Linked DNA regions of Homo sapiens: region 1 is linked to region 2. The links come from fine-mapping of genetic effects on gene expression. Tissue or cell type: atrial appendage. Region 2 holds a variant in brackets; the other region holds the start of a gene. All regions are shown on one strand. Distances are from middle to middle.

The links. PIP is the estimated chance that this variant, and not a neighbour inherited with it, causes the effect.
Region 1: it holds the start of CYS1, and the variant in region 2 is fine-mapped to the expression of CYS1 in atrial appendage (GTEx, PIP 0.99).

What each region holds. Positions count from the first base shown.
Region 1 is chr2:10,075,900-10,083,990 of GRCh38, forward strand. It overlaps CYS1 (cystin 1), which reads right to left and starts at 4,512. Exons shown (of 3, transcript NM_001037160.3): 1 at 4,007-4,512. The coding sequence starts at 4,324. RefSeq lists silencers at 3,647-3,986, 4,057-4,296, 4,357-4,416, 4,587-4,826 and an enhancer at 7,071-7,130.
Region 2 is chr2:10,142,835-10,150,936 of GRCh38, forward strand. It overlaps a transcript of RRM2 not described here. Among named protein-coding and RNA genes, the nearest start is that of RRM2, 24 kb to the left of the region's middle. RefSeq lists an enhancer at 1-496. The variant G/A (reference allele first, on the strand shown) is at 3,356.

The DNA of each region.
Region 1 (8,091 bases), 67 kb before region 2:
AATCTGGCTAGGCACAGTGACTTACACCTGTAATCCCAGCACTTTGGGAGGCCAAGGCAGGGGGACCACCTGAGGTCAGGAGTTCAAGAACAGCCTGACTAATATAGTGAAACCCCATCTCTACTAAAAATACAAAAAAATTAGCCAGGCGTGGTGGCATGCTCCTATAGTCCCAGCTACTCGGGATGCTGAGACAGGAGAATTGCTTGAATCCTGGAGGCAGAGGTTGCAGTGAGCCGATGCACTCCAGCCTGGGCGACAGACCAAGATTCCATCTCAAAAATAAAATAAAAATTAAAATTAAAATACTGAATCTATGTCTACTTGATTAAACCAAAATTTCTTCTCCAAGGGTTCCTTCAAATTTCACGAGGGCATCTAATGCTCAAAACCTCCTCTTATCCAGCCCATTCTGGGACTAAGATTTTCTGGTGAATTCCAGGTCCAGCAGCACCATCCCTACCGCCATCCACTACTGCTGCGCTGTAAAAAGAGCCTTCCTACAAGAGCTGACTGCACCGCCCTCCTTGTGTCCTATTCTCCATGAACTCCAGCCCAAGGCGCCTCCCACCACTCTCTGACCCATCTCTCACCAAGGACCTTGAGACCTCCCGAGTGGCTCAATTCAACCACCAGCTCTCAGGCTTCCCGCATATATCCCACCAAGCAGCACTTCCAGCAGCTGAGCACGCCCTCCGTCCTAAGCACCTTCCTCCCTTGGCTTCCGGATGTTCTCTTGGTTTTCTCCCCTTTACTGGCTGTTCTTTAGGATGCCTCTATCTCCTCAACCTTTGAACAGCGTGCTCAACCCCTGGCCTCGTCCCACGTTAGTTCACATACACGAAGCTCCCAGGACAGAGCCCGGTGCCCATCCATGCTTCCTAAGCACACGCTGGCAGCATCGTCACTGGTGATCCCATCTAATCTCATGGGTTTAAATCCTCCCATGTTCTAATGGCTTCTAAACGAACTCCAAACCTGACCTCTCCCCTGAATGCCAAACTCTTACAAAGATCTACTCACTTGACATTTCTGTTTGGATGTCTGACAGGCATCTCAAATTTAACATACTGAAAACCAACTTCCTGGTTAATGACACCCCAAACCTGCCCCTTCCACATTTTCTGTGTCTGTTCACGGCAGCTACATCCCTCCAGCTGCTCTGGCCAAGAACTCCTGGTTCACCTTTGATTCCTTTCTTTCTCACACATCCCAGTCACCCCACTAGTGAGTCCATAAGCCAACCGCCCCTCACCACCGCCCGCCAACCTGGTCCAAATGACCCCACATCTCACTTGGATGACTGCAGAAGCTCCCCTCCCCCAGCACAACCCCAGCTTCTGTGCCTGCCACCTCACTCCCCCTTTCTTCACTCCAGCGAGACTCTGTCTCAAAAAACAAAAACAAAAACAAAACATAATATTCAGAATGATGATTCAGGGATAAACAGACCATCTCTAAGACATTCCCAGTCAACAGTGGTCAAAATTTTTAAATGTGAGTGCTTAAAAGAATAACTTTCACTTGAGTTTGATGTTCTTTTATGAAGAATATGTCTCTCCTCCAAAATGCTAGACAGTTATGAAGCTATTAAAGGTTTCTTTTCCTCCTTTCTTCCTAAAGAAACTAAAAGTAGTGTTATTGGCCGGGTGCAGTGGCTCACACCTGTAATCCCAGCACTTTGGGAAGTCAAGGCGGGTGAATCACCTGAGGTCAGGAGTTCAAGACCAGCCTGGCCAACATGGTGAAACCCTGTTTCTGCTAAAAATACAAAAATTAGCTGGCCGTGGTGGCGCACATCTGTAGTATGCAGGCGTTATCTGAAAATAATGAATTGGACCCAAGGGCTCCCTTCCGCCTCGAATAATCTGTGATTCTAGGATTCATTTATTCAAGAAATATTTATGGTGCAGAAAATACATACAGTCGGCTGGGTGAGGTGGCTCATGCCTATAATCCCAGCACTTTCGGAGACCAAGGTGGGCGGGTCACCTGAGGTCAGGAGTTTGAAACCAGCCTGGCCATCATGGCAAAACCCCGTCTCTTCTAAAAATACAAAAATTGGGCGTGGTGGCAGGCACCTGTAATCCCAGATACTCAGAAGGCTGAGGCAAGAGAATCGCTTGAACCTGGGAGGCACAGGTTGCAGTGAGCCGGGATCACACCACTGGACTCTAGCCTGGGCAACAGAGTGAAACTCCGTTTCAAAAAAAAAAAAAAGAAAGAAAGAAAAAAGATACACACAGTTCACACCCAGAAGGGCAACTGCAGCTGGCTGACCTCCTCAACAATTCCTGAAACCATCTCCTCTGCAAGCCTCTCACCGCCACTGCCTTGGTTCAGGACTCGGCCACCTGGATCATTGCAGACTCCCCCACCCACTCACACAGGTGGTCATGTTATCCCTAGTCTGACTCTGTCCAGTTCATCCTCCCTACAGTTGTCGGTGTGACGTTCCTAAAACACAAACTGTCACAATCCTTACCTTTCAGATACCCAGAACTTTCATAGTAACCCAAACTCGCTAACATGGAATACCCTTGGCATGGCGCACTGCAGCCTGGCATACTCTCCTAAGACCTCTCTGACCCATGCCCTGGGCACCAGCTGCCCCAGCCACCAGTGACATTAGGCATGAGGTTCTCTCTGCACAGAACTTGCTGCCTGGATCACGTCCACAGACCCTTCCAGATTCAGGACAACTTCCAAATTCATCCCTTCGGGAATGCCTACCTGCCTCCCTTGGGATTAGCCGCTTTCTCCTGTGGCCTTTTGATACGGATCTCTCATCGCCCTGCTTTCTACTTTCCCCCATCGAGCTGCAGACTTCTTTAAGGCAAGGGCTATGCTGTGTGGCCTCATCCCTAGCACCCACAGCGGGACCGGTGCTCAAAGGATAGCTGGAAAATGACTTAAAGAGCGAGCAGTCACCATGATGAATAATATCAGCAAATCAGAGGGCACAACATTCACTCTTGCTATTTGCCTCTCATTTTCACCTCCGAGTTTCCAAAGCACTTGAAAATGAACACTAAAATTAACTGCCTCCTTGCTATGTGTGAATTCCTCCCAAATTTCTCAGCTATTTGTCCAGGCAGTGTTATATAACTGCAGGCTGATGTGGTATTAAAGGAATCTTGTTATATAATTCAGCCCTACTCACTGCAGCTCGCTTTTCCTCTTTAAAGACCGTAAGGGAGAGGAGCAGGGAACCAGGGCCAGAGGGAGAGAGCTCTGTGCACTGTCGCCTGGGGCTGTCCCTCTCCCCCACCCTCCCTGGGGCCTTTTCAGGATTCCTTGGTGCGGTAGCCACCCAGGAAGGCATCTTCCTCGGCTCCCAGCGGCTGCTAAGCAAAGCCTCCCGGGCCTCAGGGAGGAGGACGAGGCCCTTGGCATCCTCCCCGAGCCCGGGAGCGGATGTTAAAGATCTTGTTCATTCAGCTCTGCTGGAGCGAAGACGGTTGCCAAACCAGAGTGCTTGTTTTATTGTTTTTTTAGAACAGCAGGACTGTTATTACGAGTATTCAGGGAGAGAGAATAGGAAGCGCAAAAGAGATTCCGCAGCATCCTAAAAATATCAGTAACATGAGAATTGCCTGCCCAGCAAGGCAAGGATCTGGACCGGTGGGCGCGGCAGGGCGCTTCTGAGCCACCGTCTGGCTGCCGTGCCACCACCGCCGGCGCCCCGCTCCAGGGCGGCCCGGGAAGGCCAGGCGGGGCCGCGGGCCCGAGGGGAGCCGGGAGCCCGGCGCGCTCCGCCTAGGGGTGTCCTTCCTCGGCCGCTCCCAGCGCGATCGCCCCCACGCCTGGACACAGACCCGGAGACGGGGCAGAGAGGGAGGAAACCTGGGGGCCCAGGGGCGGGGAGGCCGGGGCAGCGGGGAGCACGCAAGTCGGAGGCTGGAAGGGGGCGCAGCGCGACCGGCGCCCAGGGCTGGGGCGGGGACGCGCGGCCGGTGAGTGGGGTCCCCGCCGTCCCCCGAGGCCCTGCGGCTCCCACACTCACCGCGCTCCCCGCGACCGCGGTGGGTCGGAGCCGGGCTGGGCGGCGCGGGGCGGGCTCCGGGGGGCCCCAGGCCGCCGACTCGGCCAGCAGCTCGTCCAGCAGGCGCAGCGTCTCGTCCCTGCCGTCGGGGGGCGCCACGGGGCTGGGGTCGCGGCCGGGCGCCTCCTCCGCGGCTGCCCCCGGGACCTCGGCCGCCGCCACCGGCACCCGCCGGCGGGTCCCGCCCTCCAGGGCTGCCGCTCCGGGCCCCGCGGGGAGGCTCTCGGGGCTGCGCCGCCGCCTCAGAGTCCGGCTGCTCCGGCTGCTGCCGCTGCCCATGGCGCGCCCGCCGCCTCCCGGACCGCCGAGGGGGCCCCCATGAGGGGGCGCGGCCGGGGGCGGGGACGCTAGGGGGTGCGGCCGGGGCGGGCTGCAGGGGGAGGCGCGGGGCGAGGTCCGGGAAGCGACCGCGGCCAGGGGCTAGGGTTCCCGGGCGGGGGTCGCGGCCGGAGGACGGGGGTGCGAGCCGGAGCCTGGGGAGGGGCGGGCGAGGCAGGGCTGCATAGGCGTCCCGAGGGGGCGCACACCGGCCCTAGGGAGGGGCGGGCCCGAGACCCCGGCGAGGAGCACCGGGTGCGGGCGCGGCCTCCCCTCCCGGGTCTCCCCCTACAGTCCCCCCACTCCCGCCCACGGGTCCCCTCGCTCCCCGCCGTCGGGTCAGCCCTGTCCCGGCCTTCTGGAATTGCTGAACCCTGCGGGGGGCCCGGCTGAGTTTGTTCATTTATGGAAACGCTCCCCAGACGACGCTCGCCGGGCCCGTGGGAGGCCGCGGGAGCTTGGGGGGACTTCCCAAAGCCTGAGCCCCCTAGCGATGCGCGGGGTGGGCGGGGGAAAGACCCTGAGGGCTGCGCGCGCTGCGTTCGCGAGGTCCGGCCGTCAGTGCGCCCCGACCTTTCAGTGTCCGCCAGGCCTGAGACGCCCCGGGAGGGAAGGGGCGATCCTCCGGGCACCAACAGCCCCCTCCGGCCTTCTCCTTCCCTCTGTTGCCCCAGCGGAGACTGGATGTGTGAAGGTTGAGCCTCATCAAAACCTCCAAATAGTCACTACTTTTGGGAAAGAAAAACTTTGAAAATGAAGGAGAAAGGCAAAGCAACCCCCACCTCGCCCTCCCCCCGCCACAGGAAAGAAGCAAAAGGAAATACCTAGGTGGTGGTCATAAGTCTAGCTTTTGGTCTCGGATTTTTTTTTTTTTTCCCTTAACCGCTTTTCTTTTTAAGTGAACTAACCACAACCCAGACTAGAAAACACTCCAAAGCTGCCGAATTCAAACCCAGCGAGCCTTCCTGTTGGTTGGTTCTGTGTTTTACTTAAATGTGATTACTTCCTTCCCTTGCCCACCTCCTGCAACTTTAAATTCCAGCCTTTCCAAGACAGGGCAATTCAAAAGTCCTGGGTTTAACTCACCTATCTTGACTTGACATTAACTTTTATCCTGATTGATTGGATTCCAGAATAATTGTGAAAATGGAATTTCGGCTAAACTTTCCCAACCACAGACTTGAAATTCTACTATTTTATCACTTCAGGAGTAGACATTAAAAAACATATGCCTAAGAAAATGGAATAAAAATGGGACTCAGATTCACATCCATTTATTTTTATTATTAAGAGAGAACAAGAGGCCGGGCGCGGTGGCTCACGCCCGTAATCCCAGCACTTTGGGAAGCCGAGGCAGGTGGATCACGAGGTCAAGAGACCGAGACCATCCTGGCTAACACGGTGAAACACCGTCTCTACTAAAAATACAAAAAATTAGCCGGGCGTGGTGGCGGGCGCCTGTAGTCCCAGCTACTCAGGAGACTGAGGCAGGAGAATGGCGTGAACCCGGGAGGTGGAGGTTGCAGTGAGCCGAGATCGCGCCACTGCACTCCAGCCTGGGCGACAGAGTGAGGCTCGTCTCAAAAAAAAAAAAAAAAAAAAGAACAAGAAAGTATTTATAATCTAGCTGGACGTGGTGGCTCATGCCTGTAATCCCAACACTTTCAGAGGTTGAGGCGAGCAGATCACTTTAGGTGAGGAGTTTGAGACCAGCCTGGCCAACATGGTGAAACTGTCTCTACTAAAAATACAAAAATTAGCTGGGCATGCTCACTTGAACCCAGGAGGTGGAGGTTGCAGTGAGCCGAGATCACGCCACTGCACTCCAGCCTGGGCAACAGAGCTGGACTCTGTCTCAAAAAAAAAAAAAGAAAGAAAGAAAAGAAAAGAGAGAGAGAAGAGAGGTGAGACAGAGAGGGAAAAGAAAAAGAAGAGAAAAAAAATGAGGCTGTAATCCCAGCACTTTAGGAGGCTGATGCGAGCGGATCACTTCAGGTCAGGAGTTCGAGACCAGCCTGGCCAATAGGATGAAACCCTGTCTCTACTACAAATACAAAAATTAGCCGGGCATGGTGAAGGGCACCTGTAGTCCTAGCTGCTCGGGAGCCTGAGGCAGGAGTCACTTGAACCCGTTAGGCGGAGGTTGCAGTGAGCCGAGATCGCACCACTGTACTCCAGCCTGGGCAACCAAAGAGACTCCGTCTCAAAAAAAAAAAAAAACAAAACAAACAACAACAACAACAAACAATAAAGAAAAAGCAAAAAGAAAAGAAAAAAAATTTTTTAAAGGGAAGTATTTATGATCCCCCCTGCCTTTTTTTTGAGACGGAGTCTCGCTCTGTTGCACAGGCTGTAGTGCAGTGGCCGGATCTCTGCTCACTGCAACCTCCGCCTCCCGGGTTCAAGTGATTCTTCTGCTTCAGGCTCCTGAGCAGCTGGGATTACAGGCACGCACCACCACATCCGGCTAATTTTTGTATTTTTAGTAGAGACAGGGTTTCACCATGTTCGCCAGGCTGGTTTTGAACTCCTGACCTCAGGTAATCCACCTGCCTTGGCCTCCCTAAGTGCTGGGATTACAGGCGTAAGCTACCGTGCCTGGCCTCTCCCCCCCTTTTTTTTGATGTGCCATCTTAACCATCCAGGTGTAGGATGTGGGGCCAAACACAGATGTCATTTGGGTGCGCTAAGTCTACAGATGTGTCTCGTTTGGAAGCTATTGATATAAGTTTTTAAGAAAACAAATCTCATCTTGAAACTCTTTAAACCCCAAAGAACAACAACACTTAGAGGCAAACGAGATTTTTCTTGAGTTCACTCAGTTTAATGATTTAAAGGAAAACATGTTTTGCTTCTGCCTAAATAGAAGCTAGTCATGTGACTCATGTTTAAATACATCCACAGCTCCCTGTGTTCACCTCCCAGGGCAACCAATTTTTCTGGCCACTCTTGATTCCAACACTGTTTCCCAAAACTTGTCATTAGCTCCGCTTCAGCGGGAGGAATGCCAGAGCCAGCATTCTTTCCACTTTGAGAGAACATTTTAAAATCTGCTACATTTGTAGACCTGGCTTCCATCAAATATGCTGAAAACTCAGATTGATTTTATTAGAAGCTTCCCATAATAAGCAAACAACCTAAAAGCTTTCCGCATGACTAATGTCCCTAAGATCGTCTCTAGAATTTTTGTCCGAAAGAGTTAGCAACGTCTCAGGAATATTGGAGAACTGAAATGGGGTGTAATCCTTCTTAAGAAAATATCTGGCAGTCACACCTGCAGCTGAAGGATTCTTTTATGCGGTGATAGTGCTCGTGGGTGCTGGTGATGGTGGGTGGAAGGTGAAGCCCAGTTTGGGAACTCTCTGCTTAACTCTGGGAAAATAGAACTTCCTTTCCTTAAACAAATTAAACCCTGGAAGAGGACTACAGTTGGTGATACTTTTCGGAAGGACTCGGGCGCCCGAACGATGTTTTCCTTGGTTTCAGGAGTAGCCAGGCATCTACTGCAGATGAAGCCAGTTCCTCCCACCACGACTCATGGACCAGTCATTACAATAGCCTGCCAAACCAACCCACCTTTCAAAACCCCACTCCAGGGCCCCTGCTTCAGGACTCGCAGATCTACTCTCCCTGCTCAGATATCCTGCAGTTTCCCACCAATCATGGCACTCCCAAGCCGTTACGTAAGAAAGATGTGTTGTGCAGGTGCTGGTTCTTATGAATATGCA
Region 2 (8,102 bases):
TCTGCCTTGAACCTTCCTGAGTCTGAGCTTCTTTTTTGTTTTGTTTTGTTTGGTTTTGAGACAGAGTCTTGCTCTGTCACCCAGGCTGCAGTGCAGTGGCGCGATCTCGACTCACTACAAGCTCTGCCTCCTGGGTTCATGCCGTTCTCCGGCCTCAGCCTCCCGTGTAGCTGGGACTACAGGCGCCCACCACCTCGCCTGGCTAATTTTTTGTATTTTTAGTAGAGACAGAGTTTCACCGTGTTAGCCAGGATGGTCTTGATCTCCTGACCTCGTGATCTGCCTGCCTTGGCCTCCCAAAGGGCCGGGATTACAGGCGTGAGCCACCATGCCTGGCCTGAGCCTGAGCTTCTTAAACACCACATCCTCTAGCCTCCTGCCTTCACACAGGCTGTTCCCTTAGCCTGGACTTTGTCCCCACCCACCCGCTCCTGATCTTTCAGGTCTCAACTTACAGGTCACTTTCCCTGGGAACCTCCTCAGACCCAGTGAGGCCAGATTAGGGGCCTCCTCAGAGCCCTCATGGCCCCAAGTGTTTACCACTTCGCTTTTTCATACTATCCAAAGTGCACAGAATCGTACACTTTTCTGATGCCTTGTTCCAGCTGAGTGCCCTGAGGGCAGGGATGGGGTCCGTGTCCTCCGGTGTGCTCAGCCAGCACCTGGCCAGGCACTCTCAGTGTTGTTGAATGAATGAGCGAGTGAGTGACCCGCAGGGGAAGCTGCTGTGTCTGACACGGTAACGTGCAGGTTGCACTGGGGGGGCCTGGTTGAGATCATGACTGGAGTCCCTGGCCCCCAGAGTGGGAGTCATCAGTGGGGCTCGCTACCTCTGCACAATTTTTTTTTTTCTTTGAGACGGAGTCTTGCTCTGTCGCCAGGTGGTACAGTGGTACGATCTTGGCTCACTGCAACCTCCGCCTCCTGGGTTCAAGCAATTCTCCTGCCTCAGCCTCTCGAGTAGCTGGGACTACAGGTGTGCACCACCGTGTCCAGCTAATTTTTGTATTTGTAGTAGAGACGGGGTTTCACCATGTTGGCCAGGATGGTCTCGATCCCTTGATCTTGTGATCCGCCCGCCTTGGCCTCCCAAAGTGCTGGGATTACAGGCGTGAGCCACCACACCCGGCCCCTCTGCCCACTTTCTTCCCCTTCCTCCTCTCCCGTCTCCACCAAGGCTGTCTCTGGAGTGGCTGTGGATCTGACAGAATGCATGTCCGCTCTGCCATCACTATTCACGCACAGCGCCTGTTGGGGACTCTCCTGTAACCCAAGGGGGTAGCGGAAGGATGGAGCTTCAGGCCTTGAGGGCCAGGAAATGAATGTGGAAGACTGAATCCTCAGGGGACCCCAACTCTGGGCCGGGTCTGGGGCTCTGTTTTGAGGACGGGGAGTGGGAGGAGGTGGCAGCAGGAGCCGGCGTCTGAGGCATCTCCTCACACTCTTCCAAGGTCAGAGACGAGGTCTCAGATACGCTTGCTAATGCACGATTTATTTCTTTTTCAATTTCCTTTGGAACCTGTGCTGTGCAGATGTTCACATGATGTGGTGGGGAAGTGAGTTTTATAAAACTCTTGGCAGAGTACCATTCGGCATCCCTGTGGTTCTAGAGATTTCTGGGGCCTCGGGGCTGTAGCACCAGCTGCAGACAGCTGCCTGCCTTCTTACAGTGCTCAGCTTTTGGGTCCAGCAGCTTTCTCAGTCCCAAACACATGTGACCTCACGATTCTGGCCCTTCCATGATCCGCAACAAACTGTTCTGGTGTGTAGGTGGAATTCCTATTTTTAATAGCCAAGTTGTTGAGAAATTGTAGGGCTTCTACTTCCTTTTGAACGGAAGGGCTCCGGAGATATTTATATCTTTGCTTCTATAGAATCTAGGAGGTTGTCTTTACCCAGGGAGGGTCAGCATGTGGAGAGGGTCACCTGGGAGAGGCCCCGGTGTCAGCCTGCACTTGCCGTCAGTAAATGGTACGACATTGAGCACCAAGGAGCTCAGCCAGCCCCTCGAGGGAAGTCCTAGCTGCCCACTGGGGGAAGGGCGGGGAGGCATGAAAACAATGACCCCACTGGCTGGTGGGGGTGACCGTGTTATGCAAAGTGTACACCATGTAGCATGAGCACCGGGCCGGGAGCCCCCAAGGCTGCTGGGGAATCAGGGAGACACCAAAGAGGAGGTGGCCTTTCCCTTGAAGGGTAAGGGATCTGTAGGAGTCTGTGGGAGAGTGGAAGCTGCGGGAGGGAAAGGAGGGAGGGAAGGAGGCCTGGAGAGAGGAGGGAGGCTCTTGCATTCCAGGCAGGTATGGGAGCTCCTGGCAGAGTTTGCAGTACCCAGTGGCTCAGTGTGGTTGGAGTTGGCTGTGGGCCAGGTGGGTGGGTAGACAGGGGCCAGGTCTGGAGGGGTTTTTAGTGCTGTGCTGAGGGGTCTGAAGTCCATCCCGAAAGTTGTAACTGGGGAGTGGCACGGTGGTGAGTTAGAGCCACGTCATTCAAACTTTCTCAAATTCCCATACATAGAGACCTAGTGTGCACACTCGCAGCCCAGGCTTGTGAGCTGCAGTCGCCCTTGCCATGTGCAGCTCGTTCTGGCGTGTTCTGTTCTGCTTCTATTCTGGCTCATTTGTTCTATGAACAATGCTGTTTGCAATCCTCTACATTGGCTTCCTCTCTCCCTGAATATTTTTGATCTGCAGTTAGAACAACACTGGATTGGCAAGAGGGAGACTGAGGCGGGAACCCAGGCAGAGGCTGCTGTGAGTCCAGCTAGGATGAGACGTGGGTGCCAGACAGTGGGCCTGGGGCAGACCCCAGGGACTCCGCAGTGAAGACCCCACCTCAGTGGTCCTGGGCCCCAGGCCTCAAGAGACTTGGGGCAGCTCCCTAAGCAGCAAGAGGGGTCCTGTCATCGTGAGGCGTGTTGAGGATCCAGAAGCTGTGGTTTCATAACTCCGTCACTGTGTGGTGTCTGAAAGCCATTTCATTAAATGTCACATGGAATCAAAATAGAAATTACATCTCTGGGACAAAGCCCATTGAGCCAGGAGCCAGGGATTCTGAATTGGAACCAGAATAGCCTCCGAAGCTGGGACTGTGGATCCAAGGCTGCCCCCACCCCCTGGGTCTCGCTCACATCTGCACTCCCCAGAGGGGGCAGGTGGTCCTGGAGCCTAGCCTACCTGCCGAGAGTCAGAGGTGGCTGCAGGGGAACCATGGCAGCCCTCCTTCTCACACTCATCCTGGGCACCCTGCACCAGCAGAAGGGTTTACATGTACAATCACCCATCCCTAGCCCCTTCTGGGAGGGAAGCATATCTTACGGATGGCGACCTTGAGGCTCAGGGAGGTTAAGGTGCCA[G/A]CCTGAGATCACACAGCCAGTGAGAGGCAGAGACAGGGCTTAAACTCCAAACGATGGCTCCAGAGCCCCCTCTCTTTTCCATGCCCTGGGCTGCCTCTTTCCCCAGTGCACCTTGCTTTTTGGAACCAGATGACCAATGTGGAAAGACACGAACTGATTCAATCAGAGTGTATGGAGAAGGGACTTAGAGACCCTGGTATTTTTAAAGCTCCCTGGTAATTCTCATGTGCAGCTAGGGTGGGGCGCCTCTGCTCTGCGGAATAGGGAAGGGGTGTAAGTGGCCCTGTGTCTCCCCTCTGTCCCCACCTGCCACCTGCTGGTCCATCCATTCAGCCGTTGCACGGACAGGTTGCCTTCTGGGGGCTGCTAGCCCCCTTGCACTGGGCAACGCTGTGTCCCCTCTGTCCCTCCCCCCAGCGCATGCTCCTCGCTCTGCCCCTGCTGCAGGTGGGCCATGCTTGGAGGGCGCAGGAGAGCTGAGATGGGGTGGGGATGGATCAGGCCTTGAGAGGGTGCCTGGTAAGCCCCGGGAAGGGTAGGGAGGAGGAGGAGGGAGAGGAGAGGGCAGTGCAAGGGCAGCGACCCCCAGCCTTGCCCCCGTTTTGAGCACGGGGAAAGTGTACACAGGTAGTGAGGAAATGCCTGCGTTTGGGTGCGTGTTCATTTCTAATCCATTTTCACTTTTTGTGTATTCTTTCTATCTACTTTTTAAAGGTTTGTTTCTTTTCTAACTTCCTGTTTTAGATGTATACTTTAGTTTCTTTATTTATTTTTATTTATTTTTTTGAGATGGAGTCTCTGTTGACAGGCTGGAGCGCAGTGGCGTGATCTTGGCTCACTGCAACCTCTGCCTCCCGGGTTCAAGCGATTCTCCTGCCTCAGCCTCCTGAGTAACTGGGATTACAGGCGCGCACTACCACGCCCAGCTAATTTTTGCATTTTTAGTAGACATGGGGTTTCACCTTGTTGGCCAGGATGGACTTGATCTCTCGACCGCGTGATCTGCCCACCTCGGCCTCCCAAAGTGCTGGGATTACACGTGTGAGCCACTGGGCCCGGCTTAGTTTCTTTATTTAAAGATAAGGGTTTTTTTTTGTTTTGTTTTGTTTTTGAGACAGAATCTCACTCTGTTGCCCAGGCAGGAGTGCAGTGGCACAGTTGTAGCTCACTGCAACCTCAACCTCCTGGGCTCAAGTGATCCTCCCACCTCATCTGAGTATCAGGGACTACAGGCATGCACTACCACACCCAGCTAATTTTTGTATTTTTTTTGTAGAGACAGGGTTTCGCCCTGTTGCCCAGGCAACAAGCAAATCTGCCCACCTCAGCCTTCCAAAATGCTGGGATTACAGGCGTGAGCCACCACGCCCGGCTAGAGATAAGTTTCTCAAACTCCTGGGCTTAAGCCATCCACCCACCTTGGCCTTCCAAAATGTTGAGACTACAGGTGTGAGCCTTTGCATTCGCCTTGAATTCCTTTTTCAATAGTATGTTTCCTACTAAAAACACTTATGAAAAGTGTGTATTTTCTCTTACCCCTTCTCCTTTTTTGCCATCTAATTTTAGATTATATTTCTTAGTGTTTGTCTTTAAAATGTACTTATACCTCTATGCTATCTTTTTCTTATTTTTGCCCCCTCCCCCATAAGAAAGATAAAGAAATCAGAGACTTAGACCAGGTGTGGTGGTTCCCGCCTGTAATCCCAGCACTTTGGGAGGCTGAGGCGGGTGGATCACTCGAGGTCAGGAGTTTGAGACCAGCCTGGCCAACATGGTGAAACCCTGTCTCTAGTAAAAATACAAAGTTAGCCAGGCGTAGTGGCAGGCGCCTGTAATCCCAGCTACTCCAGAGGCTGAGGCAGGAGAATTGCTTGAACCTGGGAAGTGGAGGTTGCCATGAGCCAGGATCATGCCACTGCACTCCAGCCTGGGCAACAGAGTGAGACCCTGACTCAAAAAAAAAAAAAAAAAAAAAAAAAAAAAAGAAATCAGATACTAACAACTCTCTCCTTCTTTCTTTTCTTCCCAATTTTTGTTTAATGTATCATTTCTAAATTCATGGTTTATATTTATATATGTCCTTAATCCTCACTCACATTGCCCTACAGGTAGATTCATTGCTCACTGTCAGTTCTCTTGCTGAAGTTTTCCTATTTTTCTCTTGATTTGCTGAAATTCCTTCTCCAGTAGTTTAATCAAAAGGGACTAAATGAAAAAAAAATATTCAGTTATTGCAAGTTCAAAAAGGTTTCTAGTCTTTGTGTTTGATTGACAGCTTTCCAGAATATAAAATTCTTAGGCCACACTTTCTTTCCTTGAGAACTTCACAGATGTCACTTCTGTCTCTAGAGTTAAATGCCACTGTGGGAAAGTCTGAGTCTAACTTCTATTTTGTTACCCTTTATGAATTGATGTTTTCACTTGACTGTCCAAAGTCTTTTTTATTTAGCTGTTTCCCCCTTTCTTTTATATTTTTAGTCTAGTTACTTTCATAGAAATTACCTTGTTATTGACAGATTTTTGTCATTTTCCCCAAGACATGGTGTGCCCTTTCAGTTTGTAGATTTATCTTCTTTTACTTCAAGAAAATTTTCTTGAATGATATCTTTAAATATTTATGTTCCCCTATTTGAGTTTTCTATTCTGGGATATATGATGGGTCCTTTGTAGATCTTCCAAATCTGTAATTTTCTCTGTAATCTCTTTACACCGTTCATTTTCATTTCCTTTTGCTCACTTTCCTCAGTCTTGTTCTCAGTGTCTTGATTGTGTCTTGAGCAATATTTGATGCTCCTCTGCGCACCTTTCCATTTCATCATGACTTTGAAGATACGATGTTTTTCCTTCTTTCTCCAGCTCTGTCAGCTCCAGTTTCATGTTCCCCCTGAGCTCTCATATCTGTTTTGTGTGCTTGCTTTCTGGAGAGGATTGCTGTATTCATTTTTTTTTTTTTTTTCGAGATGGAGTCTTACTCTGTTGCTCAGGCTGGAGTGCAGTGGTGGGATCTCAGCTTGCTGCAACCTCTGCCTCCTGGGATCAAGCGATTCTCCTACCTCAGCCTCCCAGGTAGCTGGGATTACAGGCTTGCGCCACCATGCCCGGCTAATTTTGGTATTTTTAGTAGAGATGGTGTTTTGCCGTGTTGGCTAGGCTGGTCTCGAACTCCTGGCCTCAGGTGATCTGCCCGCCTCAGCCTCCCAAAGTGCTGGGATTGCAGGTGTGAGTCACTGCGCCCAGCCCTGCTTTATTAATTTTTGTTGTTGTTTAATTTTCAGCGAAAAGTTTGCTGGCAATTTTCATCTGTTCTATGACAACATTTTTACTAGTGAGTTTTCACTTGCCACTTGTTTTTCCTGTTCCTTTTCTCGTTTTTATTTTTTAATTCTTGCAGTGTCTTCCTGTAGATGCTGCGCTGTTTGCTTTTTTATTTCTCATCTTTGGGCAAGGTAAGTTTTTCTTCAACCATCTATTTGCCAGAGGTTTGTGTGGGAGAAGAAGCGAGGACTACACCCAGTGCCATGTGCAGTTGTAGGGCTGCTCATGTGCAGTCTGGTGATTCCTCTTTTTGCCTGCAAGTGTGGCTTGTCTGTGTGATTGTCTGTGTCTGATCTGCTGCTTCTGCTTCTTGGTTCCAAGCTTACCTGTATCTCACATGCCACTGTCATGAGATCACAGGCCCCACTCCTGCTCATGCAGATAAGGGACGTTGGTTGGTGGGCAGTGTGATCCCTTCTCACTGCTTCTTCCCAAACATCTGTGTGGTATTTCCTGCCTGGGCAACCCTCTGACTCGTTTCTAGTTTGGGTTTCATCTCTCATCTGTTTCCATTGGAAATGGAGTGTAGCTGGGCGCAGTGGCTCATGCCTGTAATCCCAGCACTTTTGGAGGACGAGGCGGGTGGATTGCTTGAGCCCAGGAGTTCGAGAGCAGTCTGGCCAAGAAGGTGAAACCCCATCTCTACTAAAAACACAAAATTAGCCGGGCGTGGTGGTGCAAGCCTGTAATCCCAGCACTTTGGGAGGTCGAGGCGGGTGGATCACGAGGTCAGGAGATCGAGACCATCCTGGCTAACACGGTGAAACCCCATCTCTACTAAAAATACAAAAAATTAGTCAGGCACGGTGGCAGGTGCTTATAATCCCAGCTACTGGGGAGGCTGAGGCAGGAGAATCGCTTGAATCTGGGAGGTGGAAGTTGCAGTGAGCCGAGATCACGCCACTGCACTCCAACCTGGCGACAGAGCGAGACTCTGCCTCAAAAAAAAAAAAAAAAAGATGGCGTTTGCATCCTGTTTCTCTTTCTCCTTGTTACTATGGGATGATTTTTTTTTTTCGACTTTATTGGTGTATAATTGACATACAATAAACTGCGCCTATTGAATGTGTTATTAGTAAGTTCTGACATATGTATACACCCATGCAGCTGTCACAACCATCAGCCACTAGACATCCTGTCACCCTCCACAGCTTCCTCATGCTGTTTCTTACCTCCACTCCCATTTTCAGACAAACTGACTGCTTTCCGTCGCCAGAGTTTACATTTTCTAGAATTTCATGTAAATAGAATCCTACAGTGTGTTGTGTTTTTTTTTTTTTTTTTTTGATGTGGTTTCTCTCACTTAGCATAGTTTTTTTTTCTTTTGAGAAAGAGTTTTGCTCTTGTTGCCTAGGCTAGAGTGCAATGGCGCGATCTCGGCTCACTGCAACCTCCACCTCCTGGGTTCAAGCGATTCTCCTGCCTCAGCCTC